2 linked regions of the Homo sapiens genome follow. The protein of the gene in region 1 interacts with the protein of each later gene in a biochemical or structural test. Each region holds a gene or a part of one and is shown in the gene's direction. Other genes may lie near its edges. The genes, in order: SUV39H2 and SASH1.

Region 1 (7,280 bases):
GCATCGTGGCCAACAACAGTCTGAGGGATAGATTAGAATAGTTGCTCTTAGGTGGCTTGAGTGCCTGCTACCTAATCCAGTCATGGGTGAGTCTAAATAAAATCAGCATTCTCTAGAAGAGAGCTGTCCAATAGAAATGTAATGCAAGCTGCAGATGCCATTCAACATCTACTAACCACATTGAACAAAGTAAAAAGAAACAGCTGAAATTGCTTTCAAGAATGTATTTGATCCAATATATCCAAAATATTATTTCAACCTGTAATAGTTTTAAGTTACTTAGTGTTCTTTTTTTTGTATGATACAAAGTCTTCAAAATTCAGTGTGGGTTTTTTTTTTTTGCTTTTTTTTTTGTTTGTTTGTTTTGTTTGTTTGAGACTGAGTCTCGCACTCTGTCGCCCACGCTGGAGTGCAGTGGTGCAATCTTGGCTCACTGCAACCTCTGCCTCCCAGTTTCAAGCGATTCTCATGCCTCACCCTCCCTAGTACTGGCATTACAGGCGTGCACCACCACACCCAGCTAATTTTTGTGTTTTTAGTAAAGATGGGGTTTTCCCATGTTGCCCAGGCTGGTCTCGAACTCCTGGGCTCAAGCGATCCACCCACCTTGGCCTCCCAAAATGCTGGGATTACAGGCATGAGCCACCGTGCCCAGCCTCAGTGTGTATTATATTTTAAGCATATCTCAATTCAGATTGGCCACATTTCAAGTTTTCAGTAGCTGTATGTGGCTCGTAATAACCGTATTGGATAGTTCATCTCTAGAACATCTAGAGAATGTGTGCCCATGATGTTGAGAAATGAGTTCCCTTGTGTCTGGTGTTTGATATTAAGTTATGGACGTTAAGAATGCCTGAATCTATTGCTGGCCAAGTAAGCCACTAACCTAGGTCATAAAGAGTTAGCTTTGGGACCATTTATTTCCATGATCAAAATAAATACATCTGGGTTTAACCTGAATCACCATTTAGTAACATAGTCATCAGTTTCAGTACCTTTGTCTTTTTCCAGGTAAAACTCTTTAGCCTCTTATCAAACATGTTATGCCACATCTAAATTCCATATTTTATGTAATATAAGGAAAAATAGTTTTATTTGTATGATTTATACTTCATGTGTTAGGAACCTGTGACTACATGTTCTGAACTGTTAGTAAGAAAAATGGTATTGGATACCTTACTCTTTAAGATTTTTAATTATTTTTGGTAAAACTGGGAAATAGCCGTCTGATTTGCATTTTATTTTCTTTTGTATTTTAAGGATATGGAATATTATCTTGTAAAATGGAAAGGATGGCCAGATTCTACAAATACTTGGGAACCTTTGCAAAATCTGAAGTGCCCGTTACTGCTTCAGCAATTCTCTAATGACAAGCATAATTATTTATCTCAGGTAAAGAAAGGCAAAGCAATAACTCCAAAAGACAATAACAAAACTTTGAAACCTGCCATTGCTGAGTACATTGTGAAGAAGGCTAAACAAAGGATAGCTCTGCAGAGATGGCAAGATGAACTCAACAGAAGAAAGAATCATAAAGGAATGATATTTGTTGAAAATACTGTTGATTTAGAGGGCCCACCTTCAGACTTCTATTACATTAACGAATACAAACCAGCTCCTGGAATCAGCTTAGTCAATGAAGCTACCTTTGGTTGTTCATGCACAGATTGCTTCTTTCAAAAATGTTGTCCTGCTGAAGCTGGAGTTCTTTTGGCTTATAATAAAAACCAACAAATTAAAATCCCACCTGGTACTCCCATCTATGAATGCAACTCAAGGTGTCAGTGTGGTCCTGATTGTCCCAATAGGATTGTACAAAAAGGCACACAGTATTCGCTTTGCATCTTTCGAACTAGCAATGGACGTGGCTGGGGTGTAAAGACCCTTGTGAAGATTAAAAGAATGAGTTTTGTCATGGAATATGTTGGAGAGGTATGTTTCATTTGCCACGTAGTAAATGATGGACATGCAAGGTTTATACTTTTGGAAAATTACCTTTTTATCTCTTTAAGAGATACTTGGTACATTTTGATATTTTCATTTGCAGATATGTAGAAATTTATTCAGATTTAGGAGAAGAGTTCACTGGCATATTTAGAAATAAAAAACTTTTATATGAATAAAAAATATACGTTAAAACAAATTGATATAGTCATCTTTCAACAAATACACATTCCTACTAGTCAAACCTAGGATTTGTAAAATTTAAAATATGACAACTGTTTTTACCCAAAAGTCCTAAGAAGAAACTCAGATGTAACACATGCTGCTTTGAAACTTGAAAGTTTTAATTTACTTCATCTATTTGACCAAATATGATTAAATGTAGTTGGCAGAACTCTATTTTGGATCAACATGAAAGATACTATATTTATGAGTTTTGTAAAATATACACAAGCATTTATTGCATCCATAATCTGTAACTTACTTTTGAACTGTGAAGACCATTCTCAAAACTACCATACAAATACTAGCAAATTTATTTGTATACAAATCATATATATGTATATATATATATAAATGTAAAAAGTATTTGCCGTGTGTCACATACTATTCTAAGCACTTGATGTATTAATTCACTAATCCTCTCCAAAACTCAGTGAGGTAGTACTGTTTCTTTTTTTTTTTTTTTTTTTTTTTTTTTTGAGAAGTAGTACTGTTATGTCCATTATTGTAGAGAAATTGAGTACCTTGCCCAAGGTCACACAGGTCACATAGTAATAAGAACCGAGATTCAAAGCTCTAAAATCAGTAGTCTTCACCATGGCACCACACTGCTTCAAACTGAAGGGTAGGTTGAGCTGTGACTAGAAAGACACAAGCATGGCTACATATCTGGAGTTGTCAACTCTGGATTTTTTAGTTGGAATTGGGTCACCTATAATTATCTGTATTCATCTATAATTCTGAAACTAAATTAGATGGCTGTTTTGATTCTTACACTTTTAGACAGTGGTAGATTATTATAAATTATTCAGTATACAAGATCTTGTATAATCAAATTACTCTTTTTGTTAACCAAAATTTTTTAAGTTGCATTCTTAATGAGTGCAGCAGCCAAATTTGGTTGGTAACATAAAGTACTTTAGACACTTTTGGTTTCTTAAGCCGAGCGTGTCATAAAACTTGTGTTCTTAAGAGCAGAACTGTAGATGACGATCTTAGACTTACAGAATTGCATGAAAATAACATATTCTACAAAAACAAAACCTTCCATTCCAAAGTTAACATAGCTTCTCCCCTGTATTTTTAACAATTTTCCATTTGTAACTGCATATATATAAGTTATAGGAAAAATGTGCCTGGATCATATTTAGAGCATATACTTGCAGATTTAGTCCTTAACATTCAGTTGTGTCCTGTAGAGAGCTATAGTTGTATAGCTTTTTGAACATCCTAATTATAATGAAAGTAATGCAGTGTTCCAATGTACTGCTCAAATCCTGTTTAAAAAGTCATAAATCAACCAGTTACAGTTAATCCCAGCACTTGGGGAGGTCAAGGCTGGAGGCTCACTTGAGCCCAGGAGTTCCAGACCAGTGTGGGCAACATAGTGAGACCCCACATCTCTATAAAAACTAAATCATTAGCTGGGCATGGCGGTATGCACCTGTGATCCAGCTAGTCAGGAGGCTGAGGCAGGAAGATCGCTTGATCCCAGGAGTTAAAGGATACAGGGAGTCATGATGGCACCACCGCATTCTAGCCTGAGTGACAGAGTGAGACCCTGTTTAAAAAAAAAAGGTCATCAGTCTTTTGCATTATCATTTTTCTTCCCCTCATTTTCCCACCTCTTTGCATCTGAGTCTTAGTTTGTGTGAATGTTTGCTTTGATGACACCTGAATTTCTTACTTTTTAAATATTTGTAGGTATTCGCATATTAGTAGATAGGTAGATGAATGCTTCTTTGGTTCAGTAGCTACGTAATATACTTACAGTTTTTTCTGTTTAGGTAATCACAAGTGAAGAAGCTGAAAGACGAGGACAGTTCTATGACAACAAGGGAATCACGTATCTCTTTGATCTGGACTATGAGTCTGATGAATTCACAGTGGATGCGGCTCGATACGGCAATGTGTCTCATTTTGTGAATCACAGCGTAAGAAGACATACGTAAATTTTAGACACGACTAACAATTCAACCTAGTACTAGTTTCCATAGCTAAAGAATAATTCCCTTTAAACTACATATCCTTTTAACATTTCCAAAATATGTATTTTATAAGGAGGGCAGCTTCTGTTAAGTTATGGTATTATTGCTGTATTAGGAAAATTAAACATTGAGGTGCCTACCAAATATTAATAGGGTGTATTTTACAAGAGTCTTTACATATGTTACTTCATTTAAACTTTCTAGTAACTTTGTACGGTAGGTATTACTTTCATATTACAATGAGCAGAGCAATTAAGAGGTAAAATGTCCAAGAATTACACAGAACTGTATCTTAATGGAAGTTAACACGACTACATTTTAGGATGTACAACTGAAGGTAAATGTATTTTCTTAAAATGTAAACATGTTAACTTTTTATAAAATTTAAAGATTTGTAGAGTATTTATGTAGGGCTATTTTTCTAAATTATAAATTAGTATTCTTCCTTACCTTTTAATGTCTGAAAGCTCTTAGAATACAGCTGGCACTTAACTGCAGAATTCTGGACTCTAAATAATTTCCAAAAATTAGGGAAGTTAATAATTTTGGGTTACCTACTAAGTAGCAAGTGGACAGTAAAACATTAGGCTTGTTAGGGTGACATTATCTGCATTTTGTGGATAATAAGGACAGTGTGTGCCACAAAGTTATATAGCTGAACATATAAAGGAAGTAGACCATGTTAAACTTCTGATGGATTTCATAGTAAGAAATTGGTGTATGATTAGCAGAGAGCTTCTGGGCCCTTGTTTGTTGATTAAACATTGAAGAATTTTTTTCTTAATGATAAATTCGAGATACTCTCAAAATAGAGATATTCTATCCAGGGCCATCAAACAGTTTTGATTCCTTAGTATGACTCACTACATCTTTTTTCTTGCATATTCCGTAAGTTTACTGTAGTATTCTCAAAACATTGAAGAGTTTGGACCAAAAATTCAAGCAGTGAAACTCCATGCAGTGTAAAATTTGAGTTCTGTAGTGCAGATTTGATTTTTTAAACACAGTTGTTCTAGTTATTTTAAAGTGTATGCCTTACTGAAATAGTTACCAGTGAAATAATAATGTTATCTGGGATTTGTATTGAAATTCTCCAGGAAAAAAAAAAGTTGGGACTAGAGGAATAAGATTGGCAAGCATGTTACTAATTGTTGAAGCTGTATAGTGGATACATAGGGATTTCTTATTTTCTCTATTTTATACTTGTCTGAAGTTTTTATAAGGGAAAAAAATCTTTTTAAATGTGCATGCCTCAAAGACCTCTAAGCAATAAGCAACTTAATTTCCAGTGGAACTTAAACTAAATCTCTAGGAAAGTAAACATTTTATATGGCATGTAGAAGGGCTTGTTTACACCGTTTGTACTTAAATGGGTTCTAATGTTCCTTTTTAGTGTGACCCAAATCTTCAGGTGTTCAATGTTTTCATTGATAACCTCGATACTCGTCTTCCCCGAATAGCATTGTTTTCCACAAGAACCATAAATGCTGGAGAAGAGCTGACTTTTGATTATCAAATGAAAGGTATGCTTTTCAAGTACAGTTTCATTGGTGTCAGTTTCAATATGAAGAATCAAATCAGACTAGGAACAGACCTTAGATATTTGAACCAAACCTAATACTAAAGATGAAAAGTTGAGGCACTAAGTTTGTCATCCTAAGGTACAAAGCTAATCCAACAGCTAATACTAGAACCCAGGTCTGCCTGAGCTTCAGCTGAGGAATGGTTCTACATCGTAAATTTTCAGAACTTCCATTTTGGAAACTGATTTATTTATTATAGCATCTTAATACTGTACTACTTGTCTTTTTTTTTTTTTTTAAATTGTGGGCTAAGCATGCTGGCTCCTGCCTGTAATCCCAGCACTCTGGGCTTGAGCCCAGGAATTCAAGACCAGCCTGGGCAACATGGTGAAACTCTGTCTCTACAAAATATGAAAAAACTAGCCGGGCGTGGTGGCGTGTGCCTGTAGTCCCAGCTACTCGGGAGGCTGAGGTGGGAGGATGGCTTGAGACAGGGAGGTTGGGGCTACAGTTGAGCTGTGAATAGCACCACTGCACTCCAGCCTGGACGACAGAGACCCTGTCTGAAAAAAAAAACTATAAGCCTACATTTTTGAATTTTTACTGAGAGATGTATATTCAAAAGATTGAAAATATTTAAATCACATACAAATTTATTCTATTCCTACTTGAACCTGGCTTTTAAAAAGAACATTTAATTCTATTTGCTTTATTGTGACAATATAAATGTTTTCTTTCCTTTAAGAATGATGGCCTTTACATATTGTCATTGCTTAACCTCTTACATACTGTGCTTTTATATACGGTGTGAAATGAATGTGTATTAGATATTCCCAGTAAGTTTCATCATTTCAGAAATCCTTTCTGACAAATATGGGCTAATAACATAAAGTTTACCTATTATTAACCCACACCATCCTTTCAAGACAATTCATTATGATTTGACGCTGAATATTAACATTTATTTGTAAATATTTCAAAGGGAACTAACTACATTTCCTTGGGAGTTAACTTACTCTAAGGGTCTTGACCATGTAAGTACCCTCTATCACTGATAATAAAGCTAATATAATAGAAAATTTGAAATTTATTCTAAATTGTCTTAACTCTCTTTCTCCTATATTTCTTTTTCTGTGTCTTCAGGTTCTGGAGATATATCTTCAGATTCTATTGACCACAGCCCAGCCAAAAAGAGGGTCAGAACAGTATGTAAATGTGGAGCTGTGACTTGCAGAGGTTACCTCAACTGAACTTTTTCAGGAAATAGAGCTGATGATTATAATATTTTTTTCCTAATGTTAACATTTTTAAAAATACATATTTGGGACTCTTATTATCAAGGTTCTACCTATGTTAATTTACAATTCATGTTTCAAGACATTTGCCAAATGTATTACCGATGCCTCTGAAAAGGGGGTCACTGGGTCTCATAGACTGATATGAAGTCGACATATTTATAGTGCTTAGAGACCAAACTAATGGAAGGCAGACTATTTACAGCTTAGTATATGTGTACTTAAGTCTATGTGAACAGAGAAATGCCTCCCGTAGTGTTTGAAAGCGTTAAGCTGATAATGTAATTAACAACTGCTGAGAGATCAAA
Region 2 (7,348 bases), on another chromosome or scaffold:
GTAAAATGAAGGATTTGACCTAGATCTTTTTCGAGGCCCTTTTCCATTTCCATGAGGTAGAATTCTAATATAAAACGTTCTTGGTAAATGATATCCTATATGACTCTGAAGTTGTGATGATGATGATGATGGTGATTTCTTTATAAGGAAAGGACAACTTTGTTAAAAAGCCCCTGAAGGGCCAGGAGCCTTGGCTCATCTCTGTAATCCCAGCACTTTGGGAGGCCGAGGCAGGTGGATCACCTGAGGTCAGGAGTTTGAGGCCAGCCTGGCCAACATGGTGAAACCCCATTTCTACTAAAAATCCAAAAATTAGCCGGGCGTGGTGGCAGGCTCCTGTAGTCCCAGCTACTTGGGAGGATGAGGCAGGAGAATTGCTTGAACCCAGGAGGGGGAGATTGCAGTGAGCCGAAATCGGGCCACTGCACTCCAGCCTGGGCAATGAGCGAGACTCTGTCTTTAAAAAAAAAAAAAAAAAAAAGAGAGAGAGAGATAAAAAGCCCCTGAAGGAAATTTTAGAAGAAAGGAGTGACAAGTGACATTAACTAAGAGAGAAAAGAGTCGTCAATCTTGGGAGTGGTAATCAGATCATGTTGAGTTAACACATGGAAATTGATAAGTAGAAAGTAGCTGGGACTACAGGCCACATGCTGCCATGCCCAGCTAATTTTTGTATTTCTAGTAGAGACGAGGTTTCACCATGTTGGCCAGGATGGTCTCAAACTGCTGACCTCAGATGATCCTTCTGCCTCGGCCTCCCAAAGTGCTGGGATTACAGGAATGAGTAACCATGCCTGGCCTCAAATTTCACATTCTATGTATAGGCATCAACATTTCTCCCAAAACATTATCTCATTTCCCTATCCATTGATTAAGAAGCACCAGGAAAAACAGCTTAAATATCTAGAATAGGTTGATTTCTATAAGTGCCAAAATGCTGGCTAAGGTTTAATTATATGTGTGTGTATATATATAGATATATAATTATAAATATAGATATCTATATAAATATCTATATAGATGTATTTTTTGAGATGGAGTCTCGCTCTGTCGTCCAGGCTGAGTGCAGTGGCTCACTGCAACCTCCACTTCCCAGGTTTAAGCGATTCTCCTGTCTCAGCCTCCCAAGTAGCTGGGACTACAGGTGTGTGCCACCATGCCTGGCTAAGTTTTATATTTTTAGTAGAGATGGGGTTTTGTCATGTTGGCCAGGCTGGTCTCGAACTCCTGGCCTCAAGTGATGTGCCTGCCTCAGTCTCCCAAAGTGCTGAGATTACAGGCATGAGCCACCATGCCCGGCCCGTTTAATTACACTGATGCGGGTATGTGTTGTCACTAAACTGTACGTGTCTTTAGATGACCCTGAAACATACTATAACCTGTGAAGAAGCAGGTGGCCATTAGTATGGCCTTGCCTCATCTTGGATGGGGAAACTAGCACCAGGTCAAATGCTTTGCCCCAGGTCATCTGATGAGTCAAGAAGAAAATGATTCTGGATTGGTGCTGGAGAGTCAGGCTTCATCCTAACCCCAGCCCCAACTGCCCGGCTTGCCTGGCTCCTTGCTGAGTTATTTGCTGGAAAGTGTTTATGTAGAGAACAGGCTGCCCCTTGGAAGCAGCACAGTCCTCTGCATCTTCTTAAATTTAAGAAAGTACCAGGCCAGGCACGGTGGCTCATGCCTGTAATCCCAGCACTTTGGGAGGCTGAGGCGGGTGGATCATGAGGTCAGGAGTTCGAGACCAGCCTGACCAATATGGTGAAACCCCGTCTCTACTAAAAATACAAAAATTAGCCAGGCGTGGTGGTGCATGCCTGTAATCCCAGCTACTCAGGAGGCTGATGCAGGAGAATCGCTTGAACCTGGGAGGCAGAGGTTGCAGTGAACCAAGATGGTGCCACTGCACTCCAGCCTGGGCGACAGGGTGACAGAGCAAGACTCTGTCTCAAAAAAAAAAAAAAAAGTATCACGTGGTGAATAAATTCAAATTCTTAAATATACCAATACAGTCAACTGTAAAGGCTATTTATCTTTTCCTATCATTTACTTATATTTATCTATTTATAGAAATGACAATTAAAAAAACCTCATCAGCCTTAACTGAATTTATTTTTATTCAAAGTATCACAGAGCACGAGGGAGCCTTGAAAACCCATCTGGCCTAACTCCGGCATCAGCCTAGGAAAGCACAAGACCTGGCTGTACTGACTCATAGTTCAGTGCTCTTTCTACTTCAACACAATGCCTCAATGCTATTAAGGAGAAATTTAATAATTCTTTTGGTTTCCTTTCACAAACATTATCGTCAGAGACTGTGCGCAGTGGCTCATGCCTATAATCCCAGCACTTGAGGAGACCAAGGAGGGAGGATCCCTTGAGTCCAGGAGTTTGAGACCACCTTGGGCAACAGCAAGAGATCATGTCTCTATAAAAAATTTAAAAAATTAGTCTGGTGCAGCGGTGTGCCTGTAGTCCCTGCTACTCAGGTGGTTGAGGCAGGAGGATTGCTTGAGCCCAGGAGTTCAAGGCCGCAGTGAGCTACGATTGCAGCACTGCACTGCCGGGGTGAGAGAGCAGGACCTTGTCTCTAAAAAAATTTTTCAGCATACTTTTTTTTTCTTTGGAGACAGAGAGTCTTCCTCTGTCACCCAGGCTGGAGTGCAGCAGCAGGACCTCACTGTAACCTTCGCCTCCTGGGTTCAAGCTATTCTCCTGCCTCAGCCTCCTGAGTAGCTGGGATTACAGGCATGTTCCAACACTCTTGCTATGTTTTGTTTTTTTTTTTTGTTTTTTTTTTTTTTGTATTTTTAGTAGAGACAGGGTTTTGCTGTGTTGACCAGGCTGTTCTCAAAATCCTGGCCTCAAGTGATTCGCCCGCCTCAGCCTCCCAAAGTGCTGGGATTACAGGCGCCAGCCCCGCACCCGCCAAAAACACACAAAAATTATCAGGGATTGTGTTTATAAATTTAGTTACTTTTGAAAATGTTTTTACATTTTGAACTTTCCTGTAAGGACTATTCACCCATTGCATTGATTGGTGCTCACAGCACTTAATACTTGAACAAGGGGAATTCAAGGACATGCTCTTATCCCCTTTCAAGTGGACTCAGAAGGAAAACAAAACAAAACAAAACAAAACAAACAAACAAACAAAAAAAACCCCACAATCAACAAGAAACAGGAGAGGCCTCAAAACAAGCAGGGCTCTCTCCCTGGGGCATCTCACTTTTTTTTTTCCTTTTAAACCACAAGGCCCTAACAGAGGAGCAAACTCCATGTGGTTTCTTAACTGTTTCAAAAGTGATCAATCACCAAATCGAATGTGACGTGCATTGTCACCTTCCAAGGAAAACTCTGAGTAGTCTTGAAAGATAGAATCACAAAAGGGAAAAATCACCTCTCCAGGGCTAGTTCCCTTATAAAATAAATCTGTCCTGGGGCTTCCCCTTGGAAAAACACACACAGGGCCCCAAGTGTGTGTAGGCTGACTGGCTACACAATCATTTGAATTTAGTTTCGAAAATAGCCCTTCCCTGTGTCCCTAATGTAAAGGAATAATTAAAACCCAAAGCGCATTTCCCTTAATTAGCCGAAAGCCCTAGCAATGCATGGCATTGTGGGCATTCAGGAGCCAAAATGCCCCCACTCATAAAAAATGATCCAAACAATGGCTCGTGCCCAAGCTTTCACACTTGTTTTGCAGAGAAGTCTTGGCTGGCAGAGGCAGGATTTGTAATTCCTTGGGTCGCTTGACTTCACGAGGGGCGAGGTATGCATTGTAGCGACACGGACTACTTGTGAAGCCTTTGGGCGGGAGTCGCTTAAAGATTAACTTTCTCGGGTTTCCGTTACCAAAAGCGTTTCCGTGAATAGCGTGATTGGAAACTTGTGCGGGCCGGAGACCGCGGCGCGGCTGCTCTTTCAACAGGCGATTTGTTCTCCTGTCCGAGGCTCATTTCCATGCAAAGAGCCTGACATCAGAGCACCTTTTGTTGCTAAACGCTTTCTTTAGCCTCGAGGGAGAGAGTCATGTGGAGCTGGAAGAGCTCATTTTGAAGAGAGGGGTCCCGGGGAGCTCCCTCCAAGATCTAGAGGCTCCGCGGCCACCCCTGCCGGGTCCTGCCAAGACTTGCTAGAAGGAACGAGTCGCGTGCCTTAGTTAGTTGGTTCCCGTCACAGGAAGAAACGCCTTTGCAGTGGGTTTAATTGCTTCTGGGCCGAGCGAATTCCCCGCCGTACAACTCAGTGGTGCGGACTTTGCCTCCTGCTACCCTGTTGCTGCGCCGAGCGGGGTGGGAAAGTTTCTGGAGTTGTCAGTCGCGCAGCCCGTGGCCACCTAGACCCGAGGTGCGGGCGCCTGCGAAGGGCCCCCGCGGGGTGGCCGGGGCCGCCGGGGCATGCAGCGCGGGGGCGCGGCTCGGTGACGCCGCGGGCGGGGACCCGGCATCCGGGCAGGCTGCGCGCGGGTGCGGGGCGAGGGCGCCGCGGGGACTGGGACGCACGGCCCGCGCGCGGGACACGGCCATGGAGGACGCGGGAGCAGCTGGCCCGGGGCCGGAGCCTGAGCCCGAGCCCGAGCCGGAGCCCGAGCCCGCGCCGGAGCCGGAACCGGAGCCCAAGCCGGGTGCTGGCACATCCGAGGCGTTCTCCCGACTCTGGACCGACGTGATGGGTATCCTGGTAAGTTACCTGGGGAGGGGGCGGCGCAGGAAGTACAGTTCGCAGCAGCCCCTCTGAAACCGGGGGCTCCCTTCTCGCCCACCCACTGGGCAACCCACTCCGCAGAGGCGTCCTTCTCTGGCTCTAGTTCTTAGGGGGCTAAATACACACAGTATAGGATTTCAAACCCTAATTAAAAAATAACCAGCCACAGGTCCCGTCAAAAGGTGTTTTTTAAACAATCGGGTATGATATTCAACAGTTTAATCTGGGACACCTGCTGACATGTTGGTGTGGAAAAGGCGAGAAAGAGGCCTTCAAAAAGTAGATGTAAATAAATATTTGGTTGGTGCTGGATTAGGGAAAAGGCTGATGTTACTGATGTTTATCTCTTCACCATTTGTTGTGTGACCACAAGAGGGAAAACAAACATTTCCTTACTCAGAACTGCCAAAATGTTTGCCTACTTTTTTTTGCAGTTTTTCAATTTGTGGAGTTACAGGATATTTGTTTTATATGTTTGGGGCTAAAACAATAGGACTTATTTTGCTAAATCTGTGCTGTCATGTATTTTGAAATGTCCAGTGACTAAAAGCGCCCCTGGATTTGGCATAGTCTCTGGGAAGCAGTTCTTCTGTATGGAGGGTGAAGTTTTAACCTGCTCAGGGTTGAATACCTTGGGGAAGTAATAGATTTGCTTTGGTGGAGCTGTAGTTAGGCAGGTAGACTGGAATCAGATGGGCGAGGTTTATTACAGTCAGACATCTTAATCCATACATAAAAGACAACTTTAGTTTAAAGACTTGGAATGGCCAGATGTGCAGATTATCAGAAAAGTCTCTAGATTTGCTTTGAGATCTTATATTTTTTGAGTGGGAGGAGATGGAGTGAAAGTTCTTCTTTGGGAATGATAAACCGTGTACAGTTTTTAGCACAGTGATTAAACTCTTGGGCTTCAAAGTAAGTTATACTAGGTCAAATGCCAGCTCTCCAATTGACTGTTTACATGATCTTGGCCAAGTCATTCAACCTCTCTGATCCTCAGTTTCATCACCTGAAAATTGAAGAAAAGAAGACTTGCTTCTTGGGGTTTCTGAGATTTAGCTGGGTTGATGTGTGTATCAAGTACTCAGCAGACTGTATAGCATATAGTAGAGGCTCAATAAGTGTAGCTGTCTTTCAGGTTTTATTTGTTTCCTGCAAAGTCTCCTGTCTCTTCCTTCTGGACATCCTAAAAGCCCAGTTACTCCATTTTCAGGTGACCATTGGTATTTATGATTCTTACTATACAGAGAACCAGCGAGCGTTGGTTAAAGATTTCTATCTGCTCTTGTCACTCTCCAGTATTGAAAAATGTATATAAATATGCATGCAATGTATATTTACATACTATATATAGCACATGTATATAATATACCTAAATCTAATATATATTTTAGATTTAAAAGGTTTTGTTTTTGCATTTTCTGAAGTATACAGATGAATATGATCCTTCACTGAAGTTCCAGAAAACCTAATGGACATTTTAAAGTTGTGATAAACTTTTTCTTTTCTTTTTTTTTTTTTTTTTTGAGACGAAGTCTTGCTCCGTCGCCCAGGCTGGGGTGCAGTGGCACGAGCTCAGCTCACTGCAACCTCCGCCTCCTGAGTTCAAGCAATTTTCCTGCCTCAGCCTCCTGAGTAGCTGGGATTACAGGCGCGCAACACCACACCCGGCTGATTTTTGTATTTTTAGTAGAGACGGGGTTTCACCATGTTAGCCAGGCTGGTCTCGAACTCCTGACCTTGTGATCTGCCCACCTCGGCCTCCCAAAGTGCTGGGATTACAGGCGTGAGCCACCGCGCCCGATAGACTGTTTTTAAGTTATCCTGTTATTTCTTGTCTAGATCCAGTTCTAAGTTTTCAGTCACTGAGGAAATTGGTTTGATAATATCCCATTGTATCCCTTACTCTAGGGCGTTGGGCTGGGGGCGGGGAGGATTGGGGGCCTGTTTAAATGAAACTTGGGCTGAGGGTTCTTTTGGGGAAGAGGGTTGGCCAGTGGCATTTTCTGCAGATTTGCTTTCCCTTCCCTGACAGATTCCAGCACTGTTGGGTCAGTTGTAGTGGAGTGTTCTTTGGCTGAGTTAAAAGATGGGGTGGGGCTTCAGAAGCTCAAACCTGCTATTGAAAGGGCAGATGCAGGAGCAAAGAAAATATGTACTTCAGCTAATCATTCAGGATCAGGCTGGGAAGAACGTAAAGCCTGTCCCAGACAGGTTGTGTTTGCTCATGTTTTCCTCTTGTTTATCTGGGGTAAACAGGCATGGAGATTGTTCCTTAGTAAAATTCAGAGGAAGACATGGCTTACTGCTCCTTTGTAGATGTCTTGCAGGGAGACACCAGGCTAAAAGGGAGGGAAAGCTGTCATCCAAGTGTTTATACAAACTGAGTCTTCGGGGAAATACATCAAGACACAAAATTAACAGTTGACTTTATTCTCACTGAAACAAGAGACACCATTTCCTTCCTTTTTTATTTAAAATATAAGATTTTGCAATCATCTATCAATCTAGACAGGTGAAGTGACTTGGCCAATGGCACATACCATGTTAGTGACAATGTTAGACTTGTCCCTGGTCGCTGGCCCCTCCAGTAGGGATCCTGATGTCATGACGCTCCATAGTTAACTCTCAGATGAATTCAGTA

What was found.
Region 2: the proteins of SUV39H2 (region 1) and SASH1 are reported together in a solved structure, tested with the Homo sapiens proteins (one study listed by BioGRID).

The regions. Positions count from the first base shown.
Region 1 is NC_000010.11:14,895,586-14,902,865, forward strand, and holds part of SUV39H2 (histone-lysine N-methyltransferase SUV39H2), read left to right. Parts: intron 1-1,260; coding exon 1,261-1,932; exon of another isoform or gene 1,933-3,664; coding exon of another isoform or gene 3,665-3,727; intron 3,728-3,953; coding exon 3,954-4,100; intron 4,101-5,547; coding exon 5,548-5,677; intron 5,678-6,820; coding exon 6,821-6,927; 3' UTR 6,928-7,280. UniProt on the Homo sapiens protein: Histone methyltransferase that specifically trimethylates 'Lys-9' of histone H3 using monomethylated H3 'Lys-9' as substrate.
Region 2 is NC_000006.12:148,338,544-148,345,891, forward strand, and holds the start of SASH1 (SAM and SH3 domain-containing protein 1), read left to right. Parts: upstream 1-4,294; 5' UTR 4,295-4,524; coding exon 4,525-4,680; intron 4,681-7,348. UniProt on the Homo sapiens protein: Is a positive regulator of NF-kappa-B signaling downstream of TLR4 activation. It acts as a scaffold molecule to assemble a molecular complex that includes TRAF6, MAP3K7, CHUK and IKBKB, thereby facilitating NF-kappa-B signaling activation.